7 linked regions of the Homo sapiens genome follow. The protein of the gene in region 1 purifies or fractionates together with the protein of each later gene. This does not show direct contact. Each region holds a gene or a part of one and is shown in the gene's direction. Other genes may lie near its edges. The genes, in order: CHST5, TPPP, HAPLN3, SEC62, DPY19L1, UTP25 and TOR3A.

Region 1 (2,539 bases):
CTGGCTTTCCTGGAACACAGGTAACAAACACCTTAGCTTGGGATCAAGATCCTCCCTACCCAGGGAAGGGCTGGGCTGGCCAGGACAACTGTGTTTGGGCCAGAGCAGCAGGGTCCTGCACTCTGCAGGGGGCAATCACAGGTGGGAGAGGCCCACAGCCTGGGATCAGAAGTGCCAGGAGCTTCGGAACAGGAGTCCTGGAGTCCCAGCTTTCTTGCTGTCTCTCTAAGCCTTGAGTCTTTCACCTGAAAAATTGACATCATCATGCCCACCTCAGGGCCCAGAGTTAAGTTATCCAGTGGACTCGAAGCACCTAGCACTTGTGATCATTGAAGTCAGCAAATATGAGTTCCCTTCCTTTCTGGCACTCTGTTGGCAAGGGAGCTCACCATCCATCAGCCAGCACTGGAAAAAGTACAGTTGCACTTGTAGCGGAGGTGGGGGGCTACTCTCCTCATCTTCCAGGTTTTCCAGGAGTGGGTGTGGGGATCCAGAAGGCAGCTCGGGAGTCAGCAGGTGACAGAGGTGTTGGGCATCCTCCGCTCACTCCTGTCCCCGCATTGAGGCGAAGGAGCAGAGGTGAGATCTGCTCACAAGTTAGACCCTGGCTTCTCTCAGTGGGCAGTGTGGACAGGGGAAGGGGGCAGGCAAGGAGCAAAGGATGCAGGAGCAAGGAGAAAACTTCCAGGCTCCTCCCTTCCAAAGTCACCCAGCCTTGAGATCATTGCAGATGCAACAGGTGCAAACAGAAGAACACTTTAGGACCTTGGAATGCGGGAGGCTGGCTCAGTGTTCCTTCCACCCTGTGAGAAATGCGTGACATTCTTAAGGTCCACTAAAGGCTCAGGGTGGTTGGACGCCAGAGGATGGCCTGGGAGATACAGGGATTGGAAGGGTAGGTGGCCTGTGGGTGTCTCCTCTGTGGGGAGACTCACCAGGTGGAGGGGGTTCTTTCTCTCCAGATGTAGCTCAGCACAGGGACAGTAACAGTAACAGGGGCATGTGTGTAAGGAATGCTTCCCCAGGCCCTCCCCTCATAGGTGTTTGCAGCAGCATCCATCACAACAGCTCTAAGAGGTTAAATATTGCAAATCCCATTCTACAGAGGTGCAAATTGAGCCTCAGAGAAGTTAAGTCACTTGCCCCAGGTCTCATAGCTCCCCATTGGCAGTGCTGGGATTTGGAGCCAGCTCTCTCGCTTCCATCCATCAGGAGACCCCGCCAGTTCCCAGCCATTTGGAGAAATGCCCTACTCAGACTTATTCAACCTCAGCAAGCCTGGTGGTGGTGTGACATCCGCCTAAACCGTCATCAAGCCCTTTAGCTCCACAACCCAAAAGGGTCTCTCTACGAGTTATCCTGAAGCAAAAGGCAGGCAGGACAGCTCTGTTCCCACCCTGGGGAGCTTTCTATGTACAGGGCTGTCTCTCTGTAGGGCTCTGATCTCCTCTCCTTCCTGCTTTGCCAGATGTCGAGACATCTCCCATGGATTTGTGATCAGCGTTGCAGCTCTCCCAGCAGCCCTGGACGGTGGTGAGTCCCCTCAGCTGGCCAGGACAGTACTCTGCTCTCACCTCTCTGCTTCTTGGGCTCCATCCCAGCTCCCCATCAACTGATCTTCTTGCAAACCCACAGGGCTCCAGGACACCCTCCTTCTGGAGCCCATGCTGCCTACAGCACTTCACTCCCCACCAGTGATGACAACAGTTGCTGTTCTTTGTCCACTTTATTTACTTGTTTATCTTTAATGACAAAAGTTTTTTTTTTGTTGTTTTTTTTTTTTTTTTTGAAACGGAGTCTCACTCTTCACTCAGGCTGCAGTGCAGTGGCGCAATCTCAGCTCACTGCCACCTCTGCCTCCCAGGTTCACGCCATTCTCCTGCCTCAGCCTCCCGAGTAGCTGGGACTACAGGCGCCCACCATCACGCCTGGCTAATTTTTTGTATTTTTAGTAGAGATGGGGTCTCACTGTGTTAGCCAGGATGGTCTCGATCTCCTGACCTCGTGATCCGCCCGCCTCGGCCTCCCATAATGCTGGGATTACAGGCGTGAGCCACCGCGCCTGGCTGACAAAAGTTTTATACCTGCCTGTTAAAAAAATTATATAATACAGAAGCACACCTTGTAAAAGGTGCAATCCTCAGTTATGGGCATGACTGCGTGTTCCCTTCCCCCATCTTCATTATAATAACCCCCCAATCCCCCCAGATCCTGTGAGCCAGGTACCGGAATTATCCCTCTTTCACACACGGGTAAAGTGATCCGTCACAGAGAGATTTAAGTGATCTTCATAAGCAAGATCATAGGCTAGGAAGTGGCAGAGCCAGGATTCAACCTCGGCGAGCCTGGTGGTGCTCTGACATCCACCGAAGCCCCCATCAAGCCCTTTTAGCTCCACAACCTAAAAGGGTCTCTCTAAGAGGTATCCTGAAGCAAAAGACAGGAGTTCTCTTTGAAACATAGTATTTCTCTCTACAGATAGATAGCCTGTAGGTATGTAAGTAGGTGGGTGGGTGGGTAGGTAGACAGTTTGATGATA
Region 2 (4,258 bases), on another chromosome or scaffold:
TTGATGCTGTTAGTAGGATCTACCCGAGGGGGAGGCACTCCGGGCTCCGCGGGACGAGAAGGCAGCCGAGCCCGCACCCGAGCAGGAGGGAAGCAGGAGCCGCAGCGTGGCCGCCGCACAGCTTCGGGGGTCCCCCGACTTCCCAGCTGCGAGTGTGGAATTTCTCAGGAGAACTAGACAGAAGCCCATCTCTGGGCAGCACTGAGTGGAAGGAGAAACCACAGGAGAGGAGAGGAAGTGTGGGGCGCGGGACCACCGTGGGGTGGGTGGGGGCCAAGCCGCCGGGCTGTGAGGCCTCAGCACCCCCTGCCCAGCACCCAGCACCCCAACTTCCCCTTCTGCCTTTGCGGATTCCAGGGCCTGCTGGACACCTGGTGCAGGGACAGAGCCGGGGCTGGGGGAGGAGCTCAGCTGCACTAGAGTCCAGCTGGAAGAGTCCAGCTGAAAGTCACCAGAGGCACCCCTTCCTCCTGGGGGGCTGCGCCTCGGCCTCCTCCAGGGCAGGTGCCCCTATGCCCCTCAAGTCCCAGCACCCAGCACCACAGAACCGCCCTGTCATCTCGGCCCCGGAACCTTGTGGGGAGCCAACTCCTGCGGAGGGCCGGGCAGCCCCGGGCGGAATGAGCCCCCTCCGCAAAGCCTGTCTGGGGAGCGGGGGAGGGGCGGCAGGTGCCCGGAGAAAGGCGAGATTGGAAGAGCGGCCGGGATGGTGGCGCTGCATACGGGCGACCTGCAGGGAGAACGGAAGCTGAGGCCGGGGTCAGGGGTGCGCGCTCCGCTCCTCCACTCCTGCGTGAAGGGCGGCCCACTCCCGAGCAGCTGCGCTGGGCGCCCGGCACGGACCCGTCTCCCTGCTCAGGTCGATCCCCGGCCGCGCTGCCCCCACCTGGAAGCCCAGTCCCCTGGGTGCGCCCCGCCTTGGGGTCCGAGCACCCTCACAGCCCGGCCCTGCCGCTTCCCTGCACCGTCTGCGGCTCCTTAAAGAACTGGGCGCGGTCGGGGCTCGCCCCGCACCGTCCTCGAGGCCCCGCCGCCAACCCACCCCACCCCAGGAGGCCGCGGCCGCGCTCATCCATCCCCCGCCGCACCGTCAACGCGCGTCCTGCGGGGCGGAGAGATCGGGGTCCGGTCGTCCCCGGGGGGCCCCAGAGCCAGGTGAGGGGCCCCGCCGCCCCCTGCCCAGCGGTTCCCACGACCCGCGGGTCGGCCGCGCCCTGCGCTGAGCGGATACCCGGCGGTCCGCGGGGCCTGAGCAGAGTCGGCCTTGTAAGGCAGAGGTCTCGGTGCGCCCGCGCGTCCCCGGGCCGGGTGGGGCGGCGGGGGCGGGGCTGCCAATGAGCGCGCGGGGCGGGACGCTGGGCGGGCGCCGGACGCTGGGGGCCGGGGGCGGGCCCGGGACCGGGCTGGGCGGGGCTGGGCGGTGCTGGGCGGGACGGGCGGGCGCGGGGCGGCGGCTGGAGAGCTCCGCTGAGCACCGGGTCGCGCGCGGCCGAGTCGCGGAGGCGCCTCCGCTGCAGTCGCTGCGTCTCCAAGGTAAGCGGGCGCGGGGCTCGGTCCCGCGGGCGCGGCGCGGGGGGCACCCGGGGGCGGAGACTGGGCCCGTCAGCCCCAGCAGCCACCTGCGCCGCAGCCCCTGCCCCCCGCGCTCCCCCGAGCCCCCTTCCCGGACCGCCCCGCGCGTCCCTGAGCCCCCGGATTGGGATGCCCGGAGTTCGGCGCTGCGGGCTCGGTGCGAGGACGCGACGGGGAGGCTTTGCAAAGGCCGCGAGCGGGGGTCACCGTCGGCCGCGCCAGGGACAGGTCTGTCACCGTCTCCGGGCCCTGTGCCTGGCGCTTTGGCCTTTCTTCGCGGCCACGGACGCCCCTGCAGCCCTTCCCTCCAGACCCTCCCCAGCTCGGGACTCGAACCGTTTCCCTATTCCCAGGCCTAGGGGGCCGCCGGTGTGAGGCGTGGGAAATTAGGGCGTGGAGGGCTGGAATGAAGTCACTGCCCGCAGCAGGTTTTGAGAGATCCCTGGCCACAGAAACGGCCCATCTCAGGGTCCTGACACCACCGCGTCCTGGCAGGTGGGGCTGTCAGACCGCCCCCCGCAGAGCCTCCAGCTGCCCCGGGTCTTGGCTACTGTCCGCGGGCCTGTGGCGATGGAGAGGCGCTGCCGGGACACCTTCCCGCACCCCTGGGAGCAGCGCCCGAAGATCTGAGGAGCCCTTTATTCTGCGGTTTCGGTTACGTAAACGGAGCCGAGGGAGGTGAGAAGCCTGTCCCTCCCGGGCAGTGGCGGGGCTGCTGTTTTGATAAGGGTTTTGGGGGGGCTGTTGTCTTGATGGGGGTTTGGGGGGCTGCTGTTTTGATAGGGGTTGGGAGGCTGCTATTTTGATACGGGGTTGGGGGCTGCTGTTTTGATAGGGGTTTGGGGGGCTGCTGTTTTGATAGGGGGTTGGAGGGCTGCTGTTTTGATAGGGTTGGGGGACTGCTGTTTTGATAGGGGGTTGGGAGCTGCAGTTTTGATAGGGGTTTGGGGGCTGCTGTTTTGATAGGGGGTTGGGAGGCTGCTGTTTTGATAGGTGGTTGGGAGGCTACTGTTTTGATAGGGGGTTGGGGGGCTGCTGTTTTGATAGGGGTTGGGGGCTGCTGTTTTGATAGGTGGTTGGGGGCTGCTGTTTTGATGGGGTCTGGGGGGCTGCTGTTTTGATGTGGGGTTGGGAGGCTGCTGTCTTGATGGGGGCTTAGGGGGGCTGCTGTTTTGATAGGGGGTTGGGGGCTGCTGTTTTGATAGGGGTTGGGAGGCTGCTGTTTTGATAGGGGTTGGGGGGCTGCTGTTTTGATGGGGTCTGGGGGCTGCTGTTTTGATGAGGGGTTGGGGGCTGCTGTTTTGATACGGGTTGGGGGGGCTGTTGTCTTGATGGGGGTTTGGGGGGCTGCTGTTTTGATGGGGGTTTAGGGGGCTGCTGTTTTGATGGGGGTTGAGGGCTGCTGTTTTGATGGGGGTTGAGGGCTGCTGTTTTGATGAGGGTTGGGGGCTGTTTTGATGGGTATTTGGGGGCTGCTGTTTTGATGGGGGTTGGGGGCTGCTGTTTTGATGGGGGTTGGGGGCTATTGTTTTGATGGGGTTTGGGGGGCTGCTGTTTTGATGGGTATTTGGGGGCTGCTGTTTTGATGGGGGTTGGGGGCTGCTGTTTTGATGGGGTTTGGGGGCTGCTGTTTTGATGGGGGTTGGGGGCTATTGTTTTGATGGGGGTTGGGGGGCTGCTGTTTTGATGGGGTGTTGCGTTCCCTCTCAGTGTCACCGCTGATCCACCTGGCATGTTTATTGGCTCTTCTGCTTGCAGGGCCCCTGGGGGACCGATAGAGGACTGGGCCCCTCCGCCCACCCCGGCCACCCCTCCCCGCCTGACTTCTCAGGGGGAGAGGTCTCCCCCCACGCCCAGCCAGCCCCTGCCCCTGGGAGGTGACCCAGCTCCCTGTGGCCTGGGACTAGGAGATGGGGCTGGACCAAGGCCGGGAAGGGGCAGGAAGTGGAGGGGAGTGAGGCAGCTGCAGCCTGATGCCGCCGCCTTGAACTGGGCTCTCGCGCCTGTCAGCCGCTCGGTGCCAGCGCCTCCCCACCACGTGATCCTCGGAGGGCCTGTGGGGGAGGGGCGGGCTCCCGGAGCGGCTGCAGAAGGCGAGCTCCAGGAGGGTGTGTGCGTTTTCCCGGGAGGGGTCTGCAGCTTTCATGGTTTCTAAACGGATCTCTGATTCAGAAAGGCGCCGGCATGAACTCGCTTTGCATCTTCACAAAACATGAAGTCATGGGGATTGGACCGCGTGTGCGTGGAGGAAGCTCCGCTGGTCACTGGCTGCGTTTTAATCTTACAGCTGCGGTTGGTCTATCTTCCCGAATTCCCTGAAGTTGCAATAAATGTTTTAGCGATTATACGAGGTTATAAATGCTCGTTGTGGAAATGAGCATAGAATGCTCACAGAAATGGTCAACAGGGGCTTCCTTTTGACCCCCTACCCTAATTTGCAAGCCTCACACTGGCAGTGGCTGCCCTAGGCCTGGGAATCGGTAAACAGGGTTCGTGCACCGGGCTGGGCAGGGCCCGGAGGGAGGGGCCGCAGGGGGCTTCCGTGGGCACAAAGGCCAAAGCGCCACACGCAGGGCTCAGGAGAACTTCCTGAAGAAAATTAGGATCACCCATCGCAGATGGAGACTGGGGAGCTCTCTGGAGAGTCAGGCAGTCTGTTCCCTCCCAGGCCTGTGGGAGCCACCCC
Region 3 (3,500 bases), on another chromosome or scaffold:
GAGTGGAAGCAGCAAGGCCCCCTGGGACCTATGCTCAGAGCAGGCATGATGGATAACAGTCACTTCCAAGGCATTCAGTTGGTCAAGCAAGTGGCAAGGCCAGCACAGATTCAAGGGGGTGGGGGAATAACTGTCATCTCTTGATGGAAGGAGATGCAAAGTCACATTGCAGAGCATGTGGATACAGGGAGGGGTGGAGCATGGTGGCCATTTTTGCAATCTGAGCCTGTAGGAGCCGTGGATGAGGGTGTGCGGTGGCCCTTGCAGGGGTACAGATGTGCTTCAGCAGGTCTCATCTGCACCCTGTCTCTCCCCCAAGACCTCCTTAATGGAGTGAAGCTGGTGGTGGAGACACCCGAGGAGACCCTGTTCACCTACCAAGGGGCCAGTGTGATCCTGCCCTGCCGCTACCGCTACGAGCCGGCCCTGGTCTCCCCGCGGCGTGTGCGTGTCAAATGGTGGAAGCTGTCGGAGAACGGGGCCCCAGAGAAGGACGTGCTGGTGGCCATCGGGCTGAGGCACCGCTCCTTTGGGGACTACCAAGGCCGCGTGCACCTGCGGCAGGACAAAGAGCATGACGTCTCGCTGGAGATCCAGGATCTGCGGCTGGAGGACTATGGGCGTTACCGCTGTGAGGTCATTGACGGGCTGGAGGATGAAAGCGGTCTGGTGGAGCTGGAGCTGCGGGGTGAGATGCTAACGGGGACTGGGTGACACTGGGACCTGAGAGCAGAGGGGAGAGGACCAGAGAAAACATCCAGACCTCTGTGCTTTAGACATTTAAAAGTACTTAATTCTCAAAACAACCCACATGGAAGCTACTGTTGTGACCCCCATTTTACAGGTGAGAAAACTGAGGCACAGAGAGGTCAAGTAACTTACCTAAGGTCACACAGCTTGTAAACGACAGAGCTGGGGTCTGAACCCAAGCACCCAGCCTCTAGAATCTGTTCCCCTCTACCCGCTGTAATTCACATCTCATTCAGAGAGAGGAAAACCAGAGCTGGTCCCACAGCTTATTAGAGACAGAGCTGAGATTTAAGCAAGGTTAGCGGGTAACACAAGCGAATGAGGCAGCCCACTGTGAGACGATGGGAGTGGTGGGGACTGGGCACACTCCTGAGCCCTTGTCCTGTGCCCAGGGAGCTCCCACACTACTCAGGCCCAGCTGATGATGCCACGCCAGAATGCAGACCCCACTGCCAAATTTTCTGGCTTGACAAGATAAGCTTATATTTTTATGTGAGATCTCCTGATTTTTATGTAAAAACCTCCTTTTTAAAAACAAAACAAAACAAAAAACAAACAAAAAGCCCCCCCAAAACCAAAAACAAAAACCCAGTGCTGTCCAAACCAGCCACACCCTGCAAGCCGGATCTTGTATGTGGGGTCCCTGTTTGATCTTTAATTTGTATTTACCTTCTCTGTCTCTAGGATGGGGCTGTGTGTCCTCACATCTCTCCCACATGTTAGGGAGGCAGTTCGGGGATAGAGGAAGGTGACCTGACTTTAGCCCCAGCCCGTCCCAGCTATGACATGTGGGTAAATGCCTCATCCCCCTTAGAGCCCTGGGCCTCTCAGGTGTAAAATGGGGTATCACAATCTTTCCTCCTTTACCTCCCTCAGAGGCAATGAGGATAAGATGTATGTCCTTAAAATGCGTTCTCTGTCTTTGCCACCAGTGTCCACATGGCTTACATGGTGGCTCAGAGGGGCCGCATTCCTCATTCTTGAAGTTGGGGTGGCAGTGGAGTTGGGGAGAACCTGCAAGAGTCATTGGTCTGGGGTCTGCAGGGGCAGCCTAGAGAAACAGGGAGCCCTCACCCCATTCCCGGGGCTTCAAGGGCTAGGAATTTGGGGTGGAACCAGGCATGAAATAGTCCCCCTGCAAACACACGTAGAGGCTGCAAGCTGACTGTCAGGGCCCATGGGCTTCTCTGCCGCCCAACCTGGCTTTGCCCAGGTGCCTGGCTTCCGGCCCTGGTGAGATCGGAGGTTTGGGGCTCAGGCTGTTCCTGGGTCCTTGGCCACACGGAGGAGATTCCAAAGTGTCCTTCCCAGACCCCTAGGGTCACCTCCACTCCCTAAGGTTTCATTGACTTGGTAGAGACTACATCTCAGAAGTTTAAAAACTTTTTATTAGAGTAAAATTTCAAACACGAACATATCTTTTCAGGGCCTGTGGCCTCTATCAGACCCTGACCACAAGGAGAGAAACCGCCTGCCCCAGACCTCCCTGCCCTTGAGCCTCCTTTATGGAAGGCCCTTCCCCAACCCTCTCCCCACGGCCTCTAGGGCCTCTCCTTCTCCTGAAAATCATCTGCCACACGTGGAAAGTTCCTTGCATTTTCCTAGGAAATTTCCACATTCATAATAACGTAGACGATCGGGTCCCAGCTAACGAGTGGGGAGCTGGGAGTCAAACCTGGCCCCTAGAGCCCAAAGCCCGGGCCTGTCTGGAGAAGATGGCACAGCCTCACTGGGGGTCTGGCGACAGCCTTGCGGATTAGGTTGGGGACATTGTTGGGGACATTAATGGACTAATTAATTACCTTAACTCATGGATGTTTTCTGAGTACTGCTGTGAACCAGCTGAGTCCCAGGAGAGAGGCGGCAACGGACAGGAGGTCAGAGGTTTGCTGAGTTTTTCTGAGGGATGGTGTATGTGTGTGTGTTGCAGGCAGCACATGTCCCAGTGAAGGTGGGAGGAGAGCGGGGTGTCCAGCCAGCTGGGCCCCTGGCCACCCCCTAAGCTCCTCTTTCCTTCCCCTGCAGGTGTGGTCTTTCCTTACCAGTCCCCCAACGGGCGCTACCAGTTCAACTTCCACGAGGGCCAGCAGGTCTGTGCAGAGCAGGCTGCGGTGGTGGCCTCCTTTGAGCAGCTCTTCCGGGCCTGGGAGGAGGGCCTGGACTGGTGCAACGCGGGCTGGCTGCAGGATGCCACGGTGCAGTACCCCATCATGTTGCCCCGGCAGCCCTGCGGTGGCCCGGGCCTGGCACCTGGCGTGCGAAGCTACGGCCCCCGCCACCGCCGCCTGCACCGCTATGATGTATTCTGCTTCGCTACTGCCCTCAAGGGTGAGTGGAATAGCCAAGCGCGGGCCTGTGGGTTTGGTGGCCACCTGGGACCTGTGAGAGGGCAGCTTCTGGGGAGCTCTGGCCCCCTCTGCTGGCTCTGCTGGTACTGCCACCTGGAGGCCAAGAGCACCAGCCACCCTAGAAGCAGCATCTGGTTGAGTTTTGAGTGCTTTGCTGCTGCTGCGTTATGCAGGGCATAAATCATTGGTTTCTTCATTCATCAAATGTTTACTGAGTGCCTACCATATGCTGGGGCCTAGACTAGGCTCTCGGGAATCACAGACGAATAAAACACAGCCTGTCTTCACAAAGCAGCTCATTTCGTAGGAAGATGAACAAGTAAAAACAGAAACTGGTTCAGTGTCATATGCCAAGCCCTTGGAAAAGTGTCTGACACATAGTAGGTGTTCAGTAAATGACCG
Region 4 (3,500 bases), on another chromosome or scaffold:
AACTAATAATGAATATTAAATGATTTTTCTTCAGTCACAGTGAGAGCATCTTGCTTTGTGGTTGAAATAGGTAGTGTATGTCAGTCTTTGCTTTAGGCTGTTTCTCATCTAAGTGTTTGAATTAAAGATGTTAAATTTTTCTAATTGTGAAAAATATGTTTTCTGTATCGACACATTTTATTAAACTTGGCTTGATTGCTTCTTTATAGTAGTCCCTGTAAGTGGACATAAATGTGGCTATTTGATGTTAATGCAACTATGTCAAGGCTGCAATCACTTTAATAGTTTCTTTTTAGCAAATAAATGTTCATTGATGAAGTGCCTGGGTATTTTCCCGTCCCATTTGCAGAGCTCTACTACTTCATTTCCACAGTAAGCATATATATAATGATCACTTCTGAGTTTATCACCAGTAACATTGATACCTATTTTGGGGTATAAACATGGTGTTTTTCAGAAATAAAAATTATTTCATTAACCTTTACTATTACTGTGATAATACCCAGGCACTCAATATTCATCCTGAAATTTTTTATAATATATGTAATTTGTCTAGTCTTAAAGACATTTGGAGCATGGCCAACAGGAAGGTCAGCTTCTTACTGATGTGTGTGGATTCTTACAGAATGTTAGTACAAATTTTTATAAATATTTGGTGATCCCTGGGGGGAAATATCATTCTTACTATGGTTAGAAAGTGAATTAGAAATTTCAGCTCAGTTTCTATTTTACTATTCAAGTTGTGTACTTTAAACAAATATAAAAATCAAAAGGCTGCCTCTATTACAATCCTCAGTGGAATAGATGGCTATCTTTCTTGGCTAACATTAAATATTCTTGTACCAGAGCATGGAAAATCGTTTATAATTGTTAATAGAATGGCGATTTTTTTTTAAGAACTTCAGATTTGCTATGCTGCTGTAAGTAGAAAGCATGAAGCTTTTTGATCATGTAGGGCTTATTGTAGAGGGTATCAATTGGCCTAACTAAGCAGGATTGAATTTACCAGAGGCTAAGTTCAGATAGTAAGAATAATGCATATGTGATTGTTCTTAAAGTCAATGTATTAAATAAGGTATTTTTCCTTTTCCCTCTTACTGGATTTTTCAATTTTCAAACCATATGGCCTAGGTAACTTTAATTGAAATAATATAGATTTAGTTGAATACTATTCAGGAAGTAATAAATTTTAATATATCACATTGAAATTATGCAGTGGTGATGAATTTTGGTGTTTCCCCCCTCTTTCTGGTTTTACATCATGAGGATCAGTTAGCTGCTGACAAGAAAAGTCATCTTGTGTCTTTTGTAAATTGAATTTTTTTTTTAAATCTATTAGGAACTGGAAAACAGCAAGTATGGTTGATTCTCATTATTCAAGGTAGTTACGTTCTATAAAGTCACTGCGAACACTGAATTAGCAAATATAGAACCTAGGGGAAATACAAGGCTAGATTTCTGCAAGCCACTGGTCACATTTTCATCAAGCAGTCAACATGTAAATTTCTGTTGTAAAGACACCTTATTTAATATAATCGATTCATTAACATTGAAGTCATGACCAACAACACTGTAACTCATGCCTGAATGAAGCTTATCTGACACATAAGCTTCATAAGGCACACAACAGCCTTTTTACCCTTAGGAACAGCTTTTTGCCCTTAGCACTATGCTTGGGGGCCATTTTAAACAGTGAAATCAAAAAAAGAACAGAAATGCAAAAACCATGGCATTAGCGTAAAAAGGACACGTTTATAGTATGAAAGCTGGAACATGGCCTTGTTCAACCTCAGCTCAGAATATGTGTACAGCAAGTTTTTTGCTGTACCACAAAATTTTAGGTTAGGCAAATTCACAAATACGGAATCCATGAATAACGAGGATCAACTGTACTTAACTATATTTTAAAGCTGTGACATTTATCTACCTGGTTTATGGAATAGAATTTATTGCTGAATCATGCTCCAGTATTTGAGTGATGTTTTAAATATCCTATGTCTGAAAATAATTCCTCCTAATTGTGTGGTAATTTGCTTTTACTGTTTCCACAGTATTTCAGGTCTTTGCTCATTCACTCAGTAATACTGAGCACTTACCATGTACCAGAATTTTACTAGGCACAACCATGAATAAAAATACAATTCTCTTGCACCATTAAATAGTGTGTTAAGTGCTACGGCAGCAAATTGCTACATGTGCTGGATATCTCTTGTTTTCCCCTCCAGCTCCACTCTGCTCTTGCCCACAAAGCTGACCCGAATGGACCACAGCAGTGGGCTCCTATGCCTCCTGGCTTCTGAGTGGGTTTGGCCAAGGAGTGTCCTGGCCAGAGATCAGAGGATGGTAGGGTGCCTATTCTCGGCTCTTCTCCTGGGGTTGGGGGGCTGCCTTAGCAGCCAAAGGTCACTTCTCCCAAACTCCTTCCCTGCTTTCCAGGTTGCCAGTCCCTGCACTCTTCCTTTCTGGCCAAGGATGATGTCAGTTCTGCTGCTACTAGCCTGGAGTTGCAGAAGCTACTGTGCTTCCTCTTTGGGTAGCCTATACCTATACTTATCTCCTCATAATATCTTCATGTAAAGAACCATCTGTTTCTTATTGGAATCAAGACCAATACCAAGGAGAAATTCCTAGGGAACAAAAATTCCAATGAGGAATTGACCTCTTTGTCAGATCCTTATCACCAAACATTAGAAAAGATCTCATAACTTTATACAGCATGTTGTAAGCATTTTGATAACTAAAATCCTGTTCTAGTGAATGTCATGCAGATAACTACACAAGGAGATTAATTTAAATTTGCCTTCTTTGGCAAGCCCTTAAACCAATGGCTAAAGCAGTTAGTTGTGAGTTTCTGAGTAGGTCCCAATGCGTTTATTTCATTTGTCCAACCTAGCACAGAGATCCTTTGATACTTTAATTGCATGGCTTTTCCAATCAGACGAAATTTCAGTCTGAGAGAGGACATATTTTCTGAGGTTTATAGTTTTAGGATTGTCCAAAAGGCCTATGATCTCTTCTTAGCATGACAGAAAGAGGGAAAGATAAGTTAAATTTCAAGGGGGTCATATCATCACACTTTGGTCTTATTTCATTTTCAATGATTTCCTAGATCACTTTAACTTTTTTGTGTCATGGACTCCTCAGAATAATGGGTTTTTTTTGTTTGTTTGTTTGTTTGAGATGGAGTCTCACTCTGTCACCCAGGCTGGAGTGCAGTGGCGAAATCTCAGCTCACTGCAACCTCCGCCTCCTGAGGTTCAAGTGATCCTCCTGCCTCAGCCTCCCAAGTAGCTGGGATTACAGGCACATGCCACCACACCCAGCTAATTTTTGTATTTTTTAGTAGAGACAGGGTTTCACCGTGTTGGCGAGACTGATCTTGAACTCCTGACATCAGGTGATCCACCTGCCTCGGCCTCCCAAAGTGCTGGGATTACAGGCATGAGCCACCATGCCTGGCCAGAATAATGTTTTTAAATGCAGAAAAGGAAATGCATGGG
Region 5 (3,500 bases), on another chromosome or scaffold:
AATGGTTTGCAGGGGAAATGTTATACATATGTTCTTAGTAATTTATTCTGCCATTTTTTATAGATTTTAATTTTTTCAAAATTTATTCACAGTCATAAATGCCACATTTAAAATAATTTTTCCTGTGCTTATTTTCTTAATGAATTTTTAATATTAGTCCTTCACATTCCTTCTTGAAATAAACTCATGGAATGTGACATTTTATTCATGTGTGGAAAGGGAGACTTTGTTGTCATCTGAGTATCAAATGATTGAATACTAAATCATCTTCCAGAACTCCTTGTTACTGTAAAGCTTTCCTAGTCCATTTGATACTTCTTTTTTAGATTCAGGAAAGATTTCTAAGATTTTTTCTTTAAAGAAAGAAAGAAATCTTTAATGATGAGATGATGAAGCTCTGTTTTCCAAGGAAAATAGTTTACCCAGGCCTGGCTGCCAACTGCTACTTTATCAGCCATCTGACTTCATGCTAGTTCTGCCATTGAATCTTGAAGTCATGAACCTGCTGGGCTTCCGCTCTGTTACCTGTGAAATAATTGATTTACACTTGAAGGAGACACCTTCTCGCCTTCACTGAGTGTCTTCCTGAGACATTCCTCTTGCCTTCCAGATGCAGTGTTTGCGGGTGCCATGCCCACGATGGCAAGTGTTAAGCTCTCTGCACTTCGGCCCATTGTGAATCATCCACATTATGAAGACGCAGGCTTGAGGTCAGTGCACAGTCTTGCATCATCAAAACAAACCTCCCATGCAAACAGACAGTGAGTGGAGGACACCAGCAAAGTAATAAGGAATGTTTCAAAAGGATATGATGAACTGAGGCTTATCGAGTCAGGGAGCAGAAAGCTGAAATAAGACCGCTAAGCTCTAAACAAATCCGTTAAAGCTTCACAGGGCAGGAAAGTGACAACTTTGGGGGCTCTCTTCTCTACCAGGCATATAAACGAAGTCATACTATAGCACTTTCCCACAGGTTAACAGGGCTCTAAAATGTCCAAGTCCTTTTCATCCTGTAACTCCCTGGGGAGTTTAGCTTAGAGTGTTTATTAAGGTTTTCTCATAGGTGATTTTTCTTGAGTTTGGAGAAGTCATTTGAAATAGAATCCCATTCAAAGAGGAGTTTATTCTGGTTTTCACCAGTATAGCCTGTTAGAATGATCTTGGGTGTTTTATGTTTTTTTAGATTTTTTTGAGACTTTAAAAAATAATTTAGAGATGTGTTGTCCAAATTTTTTTTTAAAAATTTAATTTTTCTTGCAGTTTCTAAGGCAGGTGAAGCTATTCATTTTCTAAGTGATTAGGTGAATCTTATTAGCATCTTCTTTTTCATAACAATGGCATGTACATTCACAAATAAGCTTTTTCATTAAAAAATCAATCTCATCAAGCTAATTTCCAGACCAATTTTGTTAAATAAGTTTAGTTTTTCTTAAATCTAGAAATAAAATGAAGAACCATTTAATGTGAATTATTGTTGATGTCTAAGTTGGGACTGTTGCAGCTTCACAGTAGTCCTATAGTTGTGTTTGTTGTAGTTCATCCCTGTTCACACACAGGGTACCTTACTCTTACATGTGATAGCGAAGTGAAGAATTTAAGACAAATAAATAAGTGAACAAACACAAAGAGACCAAGTTTGGGAATGTAGGGGTGTGTTAAAGGTCACCCTCTTCTCCACAACTTGTCCTCCTCCTGCCTTCTGCTTTTGACCTCACTGATGCCCCTTAGCGGGAACTTCCATGGGGAATTTCCTCCTGACTGGATTCTTCTTCATCGTCTTCTAGTCTAATTCAGTGCTTTCTTCCAAATGTGTTATTGTATCGTTTTAGTCTTGAAAATTTTATGCCCAATTATTTTTCTTTAAAGAGCCAGAACAAAAATAGTATACTCAATGTATAGTCGGAAAGCAGCCGAAGAAGTGAAGCGAGAACTGATAAAGTTAAAAGTGAACTATTACATTCTAGAAGAGTCATGGTGTGTAAGAAGATCCAAGTGAGTATCAACACAGTTAACATTTTATAATCATAAGACATGAAGGTTAATTCAAGCACATGGCACATGCTTTGCTGGTGGCGGGGGTGTGTATATAACATAAAGTATACATGGAAAAACTTCTTCTTTTTTTTTTAAACAGGCTCTCACTCTGTTGCCCAGGCTGGAGTGCACTGGCATGATCTGGGCTCACTGCAAGCTCCACTTAATTTTTGTATTTTTAGTGGAGATGGGGTTTTGCTGTGTTGACCAGGCTGGTCTCAAACTCCTGGCCTCAAGTGCTACTCCTGCCTTGGCCTCCCAAAGTGCTGGGAGTACAGGCGTGAGTCACCACGCCTGGCCTGAAAAAACTTTTTAGATAATGATTTGGAGACTTTCTTTTATAGTCTTTATAAATATCTTTTTTTTTTAAATAATGATTTGTATGTGTATACTACCTTAAAGAGATTTTATTGGCACTAGTTGATAATCTCCCAAATTGTTCATATTTGCCTTTGATGTTTTAAAAGAAACTTTTATTTAAAGTTGGATGTATTTTCTTTCAAAAGACTTCCAGGGTCTGAAACCAAGTAATGGGGAGTCTCTTTTGGTGAAGTCAGGCAGCTGAGCACCAGGGGTCACATTATCCTTACTGGGTCTCTGTGCTACACCATGTCCTGTCGATGGATGGGATACCCTGTCAGCAAAAACTCAGAATGAAATTTTTCTTTCCTGGTGTTTCACATCTTACTTGAATGGGAAAATGACTCTACTGTGACCCACTTTCTCTTGGGTTTATAGTTTTTAAGTTTCTATTTCCACAGAGATGTTTACTAAGCTGAGTATAGCTCCAAGTGACAGTAAGATCTTCAAAGCAGATGTGAATCTAAAGCTATCTAGAAATGTGGCACGTAAGTGACTGGACACCAGGTGACAGTAGCCTGCTTTTAAAGTACCAAAACATTCACTTCATGAAGAGCACAGTACAGGAACAATTTTATCAGAAATAAACACTATTTTATGGAATAATAATATTTTTTAAATTCTTACTATTCTGTAACTAAACAAAAGCGTTCAAGAGATTGCTATATTTGTGGCTTGATCACACTTTCCCACCATATATTTCAATGACACATATGGTATTAAGACAACATTGTTAAATACTGAGTCGTGAGTGAAAAATAGTTCTGTGACATAGTATCTACAGCTTTGCTCACAAGGAAACTAAAATAATTGTTGATTATAGAATGATTCTCCTATGAACGTGTGCTACGTGGTTTGAATTCAGTCAGGATTTATAGAAAATGTTATTTTGTAATAATTCAGAAAATGTTTTAAGCGTTTGTGAATATGTATATGAAATTCACATACTCACCTTTAACATTGTTATATAAATTTAGGACAGAAAAGTTCTAAGCATCTCATGACGATCTTAGGAAATTATATGAAATGAATGATAGGCTGACATTTGCAATAGGAAGAACTCAGTTCTTAGCATAGCTTTCTACCAGAATGGGGATCTTCTTTAT
Region 6 (3,500 bases), on another chromosome or scaffold:
TAGTCAAACTCCCTTGTGTAATAGCGGGGGAAACCAAAGCCCCGACGCTTACTGTCACCGCTGGAACAATAACCCAGTCCTCTTAAATCTTGGTCCACCATCTCTGCAACTGTACCAAGCTGAGTCCACTGCACTCCTTGGGGCTTGAACATCAGGGTTATAAGGTTGTTTCCATTTAGAATTACATAGAAGAATAAGAGGCAGATTATCTATGAAACATATTATAATTTGGTGAATTACGTGATTTAACTGGGGTTATGTCCATTGTTTACAATAGGAAATTAGAAATTAACCATTTTTTAAGCATCTTCGGTTTTTATTCTCAACAGTAACTTTAAATATTTTTGAATATGCTTAGAAAGCTGAGTCCTGTTTTTCCCATTAATTGTGGTCATTTTTTTTTAGAAATGCTTTATTGTCATTTCTGAAACACTGTATAGAGAATGCACTAGAAATGTAATGATGTGTTAATCCTTTTTCTTACCCGCTTTATTTCTTCTCTACTTGTTCCATTTATTTATTCGACATGTATTTATTCACTGTGTCTTTAGGATAAAAATATTGCACTAATTCTGTGGGAGACACAGAAATCTTTCCCTCAAAGAGCTCATGTGTTTATGTCCTTGAGTTTTTACTGGTAGACGTATCTGTTAGAGGCATTGGCTTATTGTAAAAGGTATTTCCAAATTCTGCTTGAGAAATGTCTCACGTGGACTGATGGGTCTGAAGTCCGCAGGTCATGGTGCTGGGGTTATGAAAGGTGCTCAGTTTCTGGTGTTGAGCCAAGCCCTGCGCAAAGCGGGTAACATAGGTATGTTTCTTGGCTGGGGGCCACTGCTCTACATGGAGCTTTTTAGCTCCACTTCCTCAGCAGTTTCACCTCAAGATCCTGTTCCTTCCTCTTACCCCACTAAGGCTGCTGTTGCTGTCTGCACAGGTACTGATAGTGGTGCCATTCCGGGAAGCTGCTTTGCGGGTGGTGCAGCTCTTCATCAGCCTCCTCGAGGGTGACAGCAAGAAGAAAATCATTGTGAGCAACAAAAAGAGGTTTCAGGGAGAATATGGATCAGATCCCGAGGAGAGACCACCCAACTTGAAGAGGCCTGAGGATTATGAAGCCGTATTTGTGGGCAATATTGATGACCACTTCAGGATTGGTAATTCTTCCTTATCAACTTTGAGACCTAAAGTGTGAAGGTCTACATAGCTGGAGACCAGAAGCTGGAATTAGATATTTTCCCAGTGGATCACTCACTGTGCCTCTTTAACAGAACCAGTGTGCCTTTGAGACATGTTGTTTGCCATGGGAGAGTCTTGCCTTGGCTAATGGGGTGGACATTAGGCCAGTGGAGTCGGGAGGATCTCTGAGGCCATATATGAAAGGCACATGTACATTTATAACAGAAATTTATAGCAAGTTTATAACAGAAGTGTGAAAGCACACCCATAGCTGGTAGCAGATAGATGCTACAAGGGGTTCTCTAGGATGTTGGAAGTGATGGGGCTGATGGGGTCATTCTGGGGAGGCTGAATAAAATGACTGTCTCTACATAAAGGTGGACTTTCTCCTGTGTGCTACATAGATGCCTACCCTGAATAATCTCCACACATGACTTCCACCCAAATTTTCACATTTTTGCTTGTCTCTCATTCAGCTCCCATTGACTTTGGTTGGTTATACCTTTTATAGAGTAAAGTTCTTGGGGAAATGTTCATTAGTCACATATGCTCATTCACAAATACTTATTGAGTATCTACAGTGTGCCAGGCACTGTTAAGAAGCTGGGAATCTACAGATAAATATAGAAATAAAAGTTATAGTTCCCATTGCTAAGGAAATCCAGCCTACGACAGAGCAGGCAGTGCAGGATATGTGTGCAACGGTTGTTCTCGGAGCATTTAAAGCAAACCCCCTTACCCAAAATGGGGGCAGGGTGGTTAGGGAAGATGTCGTGGTGGAGGTGTCATCTGTACTAGGTGGAAACCTGTGTAGGATTCAGCCAGTTTCAAAGGGAGGTGGCTGAGTGGAGGAAAACATTTCAGACAGGAAACTGCCTGTTGCAGAGGCATCAGGGTGACTAAGCTTGGAATGACCTATGATTCACACAGGCTTCGGTATGGTGGAATGTAAGGCATAAGGAGACAAGAGCTCGTGTTTTGTTTGGAACATATATAGCTGTCCAGGAAGCAGTTGGTATATTGTTCTGGAGCTCAGGAAAAAGATATGGGCTGGAAATACACATTTGTGTGAAGGTGACATTAAAGCCATGATCAGTGAGTCAGTTAACCCAAAGCTTTATGCAGCACGAGAGCAGAGCTGACAAGTGAATCCACCAGTTTGCAGAAGAGTTATTTGGATCTGGAAGGACAGACAAGGGCCAGGTCAGTGATAGAAGCAAAAGTGAGAGTTGAAGTCATGGAAACTATTAGCAAGGAAAAGAGCATTGCAAGGCAGCTGTTAGTACATTCTGTGCCGTTTGTACTTTCCTCATAAGAAGCTCTCAAAAGTGTTCATCCTGTTGGTGACTGAGGACTGTGGGGACCTTAGCAAGAGTCATTTCTCTGGAGTCCTGAGAATCAGAGGCCGGATTGCAGTGGAGTGAGAAGTGAAGGAGAGATTTGAAAGTAGAGAGAATTCTCTGGAGCAGTTTGATAGTGACGGAAAGGAAGAGAAGGTAGAAGCTAGAAGGGACTATAGATGCAAGGGAGAGATTTCTCTTGTTCTTATGTTTTAATAATTAAAGCAGTTGAGCACAGTTACATGCTAAGAGGAACAAAAGAGATGTGGAAGCAATAGAAGTGGTGGACTGCTTTGAGAGGGTGGAAGGTAATGGCTTGGTAGTGACTAATGAATTGGTGTGTACTTGGCTGTTTTGTGTAGGAGTGGCAATACTTCAGAGAAGCATCCGACTCTATGCCCCGTTTTACTCCTCGGATATCCTCATTGCTTCCCCCCTGGGCTTGAGGACCATCATTGGTGGAGAAGGAGAGAAGAAGAGAGATTTTGACTTTCTGTCTTCTATCGAGCTTCTCATCATTGATCAAGCTGACATTTACCTGATGCAGAACTGGGAGCATGTCCTGGTAATGCTGGCCATTCACATTCAGTGGGACAGTATTCATATTTAGAGGGATAAGACACCCAGTGGTTTAAGTCCTAAAGAATTATTTAAGTCCAGATTAGAACTCTTGTTTGGAAGCAAGGACACACACTCCACATTTTCTAATTTGAAAAAGTCTTTTGTCCCCTTTTCTACCCAGAGATTGTCCATAATTAAACTGTCTACAGATTAAAATTCCTGTCAGTCATTTTCAAATCTCCAGAAAAGATTTCTTTCCCTTAAAATTTCTTTCTACTAACTTTAGGGTGGGTGGATGGGTGGATGGGATAGGTTGATGGATGGATGGGTCCTCACCAGGAACATCTTTACCTAACATAATCCCACATGTGGTTTTTGCTTATGCTGTTTTGTTTGGTCTTTGGTGAAGATGGGAATACC
Region 7 (2,213 bases), on another chromosome or scaffold:
AGACACATTAGCACCTCCCCCTACAATGAGGCACCTAGCTAGACAACTTGGCTGTCCGGGCTTAACCTGCGTGGCAGGGAAGGACGCCTGCCCAGCCTTAGCCTCTACGCAATGGTGGAGGCAGGGAGGGAGAGAACCACACAGCTCCCCTCATTTCCCAGCAGCCCCCATGGAGCCTAGTCAACAGGGTGTGGTCACAGGCTAAATGAGCAAAGATGTGAGCTAATATACTGGTAGGTGTCATGGGGGCTTTCAGAGCTGGGTAAGGAGGGAAAGAGATGGAGATACTGGTTCCCCACTCCTTAACCTGCCACCTGCCTTCCCTGTCCTTTACCCTCCCTCATTCTGCTGGACCTGAGGAAAATGCAAGGGAGGCTAGGCCTAGTGGCTCATGCCTGTCATCCCAACACTTTGGGAGACTGAGGTGGGAGAATCACTTGAGCCTAGGAGTTTGAGACCAGCCTAGGGAACATAGTGAGACCTCGTCTCTACAAAAAAATTTTAAAAATAGGGCCGGGCACACCTGTCATCCTAGCACTTTGGGAGGCGGGCAGATCAGCTGAGGTCAGGAGTTTGAGACCAGCCTGGCCAACATGGTGAAACCCTGTCTCTACTAAAAAAATTAGCTGGGCATTGTGGCATGTGCCTGTAATCCCAGCTACTTGGGAGGCTGAGGCAGGAGAATCTCTTGAATCCGGGAGGCAGAGGCTGCTGTGAGCTGAGATCACGCCACTGCACTCCAGCCTGGGCAACAAGAGTGAAACTCTGTCTCAAGAAAAAAAAAAATAGCTGGGTAGGGTGGCATGTACCTGCAGTCTCAGCTACTTAGGAGGCTGAGGTGAGAGGATCAGCTGAGCCTGGGGAGGTGGAGGCTGCAGTGAGCCAAAATCACGCCACTGTACTCCAATCTGGGTGACAGAATGAGACTGTCTCCAAAAAGAGAGAAAGCACGGGGAAGTGCAAGTGCATTGATGTGGAGCTGGGCAAGGACTTGGTTTAAGGAGCTGGTGGAGCTGGCTGAGGCTGCAGCCCAGGGAGGGGAGGAGAGTGCAGTGAGGTGGGGGAGAAGTATGCCTGGGCCGTGGAGGGCGGAGGAAGGCCAAGTCTCCACTACCTCTGTCCCAGCTTCCCTGCTGGTGGCTCTACGGTTGCATCTTCTCTCCTTATCCCCTTTCTCCCTCCTATCTCTAACCCAAATCACTTTCTGTGCTTCAGACCCGTAATTCCAGTTGCCCAGTGATATCACAACCTGAGAGAGATCACAGGCAAGCAAAAAACACTCAAACGTGTGTAAAACCAAACTTTCATCTCCACCTTTCCGTGTTCCACCTCTGTTAAGGGGGACAGCAAGCAGCTTGAGGCTAACGCTTGTTCTTTGATGACCTCCTTTCACTTCTCACATCCATCAGTTACAGGGTTTTTCAATTGTGCCTCCATAACTAATTCTTAAATCCTCCTTTCCATCCCTTCTCCATGATCCATAAGCTCAAGTCCATGCAAATGGCAGACAAAGCCCTCCTCACCTTAGCCAGCCTTTCATGCCTGTGCTCCTCTGGCGCACCCAGGCCTAGACACTTCCCTTCCTTGCCAAGTGTCTGATGATCACTACTTGGTCTTTATTTGCTCAGAAGCCTCATCCTCCCTCTGAAGCCTTCTCCTTAGAACTCAGTCACTCCTCCATTAGCGCTTGCCACACTGTCCTGGAACCGAATACACGGATGCCCCTCAGACCACACAGAAGAACCATATCTTACCATCTTTTCATGCTCCCTGCACTTAGCACAGTCTCAGTAAGTGTGTGTCAAGAGGGAACAAGAGAGAATGGGTGGCAAAACTGGACAGTGTCTTTTCTGTGCAGACCTTTGGGTTGTGAGGTTGTGACAAGGTCTCCTGGAAGAGAGAGAAGGTCCACGCCCCTCAGCCTCTATTCTTCCAGGCACTAATGCATTGGTTTCAGCGGTGAGATAACATATATGGAAGCTAAATATAAACAAATGGGTTAACAAGCTCTTGTCTCTTTCAGTAATCTCAGGGGCGATATAATCAATGAGGTGGTCCTAAAGTTGCTCAAGGCTGGATGGTCCCGGGAAGAAATTACGATGGAACACCTGGAGCCCCACCTCCAGGCGGAGATTGTGGAGACCATAGGTGAGTAACTGACTCAATATGCCTCTGGTGAGAGCCACAGCTGGTGATAATTAATGTGTTTGTTG

The links.
Region 2: the proteins of CHST5 (region 1) and TPPP purify together in Homo sapiens (affinity purification with mass spectrometry; one large-scale study listed by BioGRID and IntAct). This does not show direct contact.
Region 3: the proteins of CHST5 (region 1) and HAPLN3 purify together in Homo sapiens (affinity purification with mass spectrometry; one large-scale study listed by BioGRID and IntAct). This does not show direct contact.
Region 4: the proteins of CHST5 (region 1) and SEC62 purify together in Homo sapiens (affinity purification with mass spectrometry; one large-scale study listed by BioGRID and IntAct). This does not show direct contact.
Region 5: the proteins of CHST5 (region 1) and DPY19L1 purify together in Homo sapiens (affinity purification with mass spectrometry; one large-scale study listed by BioGRID and IntAct). This does not show direct contact.
Region 6: the proteins of CHST5 (region 1) and UTP25 purify together in Homo sapiens (affinity purification with mass spectrometry; one large-scale study listed by BioGRID and IntAct). This does not show direct contact.
Region 7: the proteins of CHST5 (region 1) and TOR3A purify together in Homo sapiens (affinity purification with mass spectrometry; one large-scale study listed by BioGRID and IntAct). This does not show direct contact.

The regions. Positions count from the first base shown.
Region 1 is NC_000016.10:75,530,570-75,533,108, reverse strand, and holds part of CHST5 (carbohydrate sulfotransferase 5), read left to right. Parts: 5' UTR 1-20; intron 21-1,468; 5' UTR 1,469-2,539. UniProt on the Homo sapiens protein: Sulfotransferase that utilizes 3'-phospho-5'-adenylyl sulfate (PAPS) as sulfonate donor to catalyze the transfer of sulfate to position 6 of non-reducing N-acetylglucosamine (GlcNAc) residues and O-linked sugars of mucin-type acceptors.
Region 2 is NC_000005.10:690,553-694,810, reverse strand, and holds the start of TPPP (tubulin polymerization-promoting protein), read left to right. Parts: upstream 1-1,458; 5' UTR 1,459-1,533; intron 1,534-2,067; exon of another isoform or gene 2,068-2,250; intron 2,251-4,258.
Region 3 is NC_000015.10:88,878,545-88,882,044, reverse strand, and holds part of HAPLN3 (hyaluronan and proteoglycan link protein 3 isoform 2 precursor), read left to right. Parts: intron 1-319; coding exon 320-688; intron 689-1,434; coding exon of another isoform or gene 1,435-1,502; exon of another isoform or gene 1,503-2,316; intron 2,317-2,576; coding exon of another isoform or gene 2,577-2,634; intron 2,635-2,775; coding exon 2,776-3,078; intron 3,079-3,500. UniProt on the Homo sapiens protein: May function in hyaluronic acid binding.
Region 4 is NC_000003.12:169,994,307-169,997,806, forward strand, and holds part of SEC62 (translocation protein SEC62), read left to right. Parts: 3' UTR 1-3,500. UniProt on the Homo sapiens protein: Mediates post-translational transport of precursor polypeptides across endoplasmic reticulum (ER). Proposed to act as a targeting receptor for small presecretory proteins containing short and apolar signal peptides.
Region 5 is NC_000007.14:34,936,486-34,939,985, reverse strand, and holds part of DPY19L1 (protein C-mannosyl-transferase DPY19L1), read left to right. Parts: intron 1-610; coding exon 611-710; intron 711-1,866; coding exon 1,867-1,992; intron 1,993-3,500. UniProt on the Homo sapiens protein: C-mannosyltransferase that mediates the C-mannosylation tryptophan residues on target proteins.
Region 6 is NC_000001.11:209,837,972-209,841,471, forward strand, and holds part of UTP25 (U3 small nucleolar RNA-associated protein 25 homolog), read left to right. Parts: intron 1-937; coding exon 938-1,157; intron 1,158-2,881; coding exon 2,882-3,084; intron 3,085-3,500. UniProt on the Homo sapiens protein: Component of the ribosomal small subunit processome for the biogenesis of ribosomes, functions in pre-ribosomal RNA (pre-rRNA) processing. Essential for embryonic development in part through the regulation of p53 pathway.
Region 7 is NC_000001.11:179,092,070-179,094,282, forward strand, and holds part of TOR3A (torsin-3A precursor), read left to right. Parts: intron 1-2,023; coding exon 2,024-2,148; intron 2,149-2,213.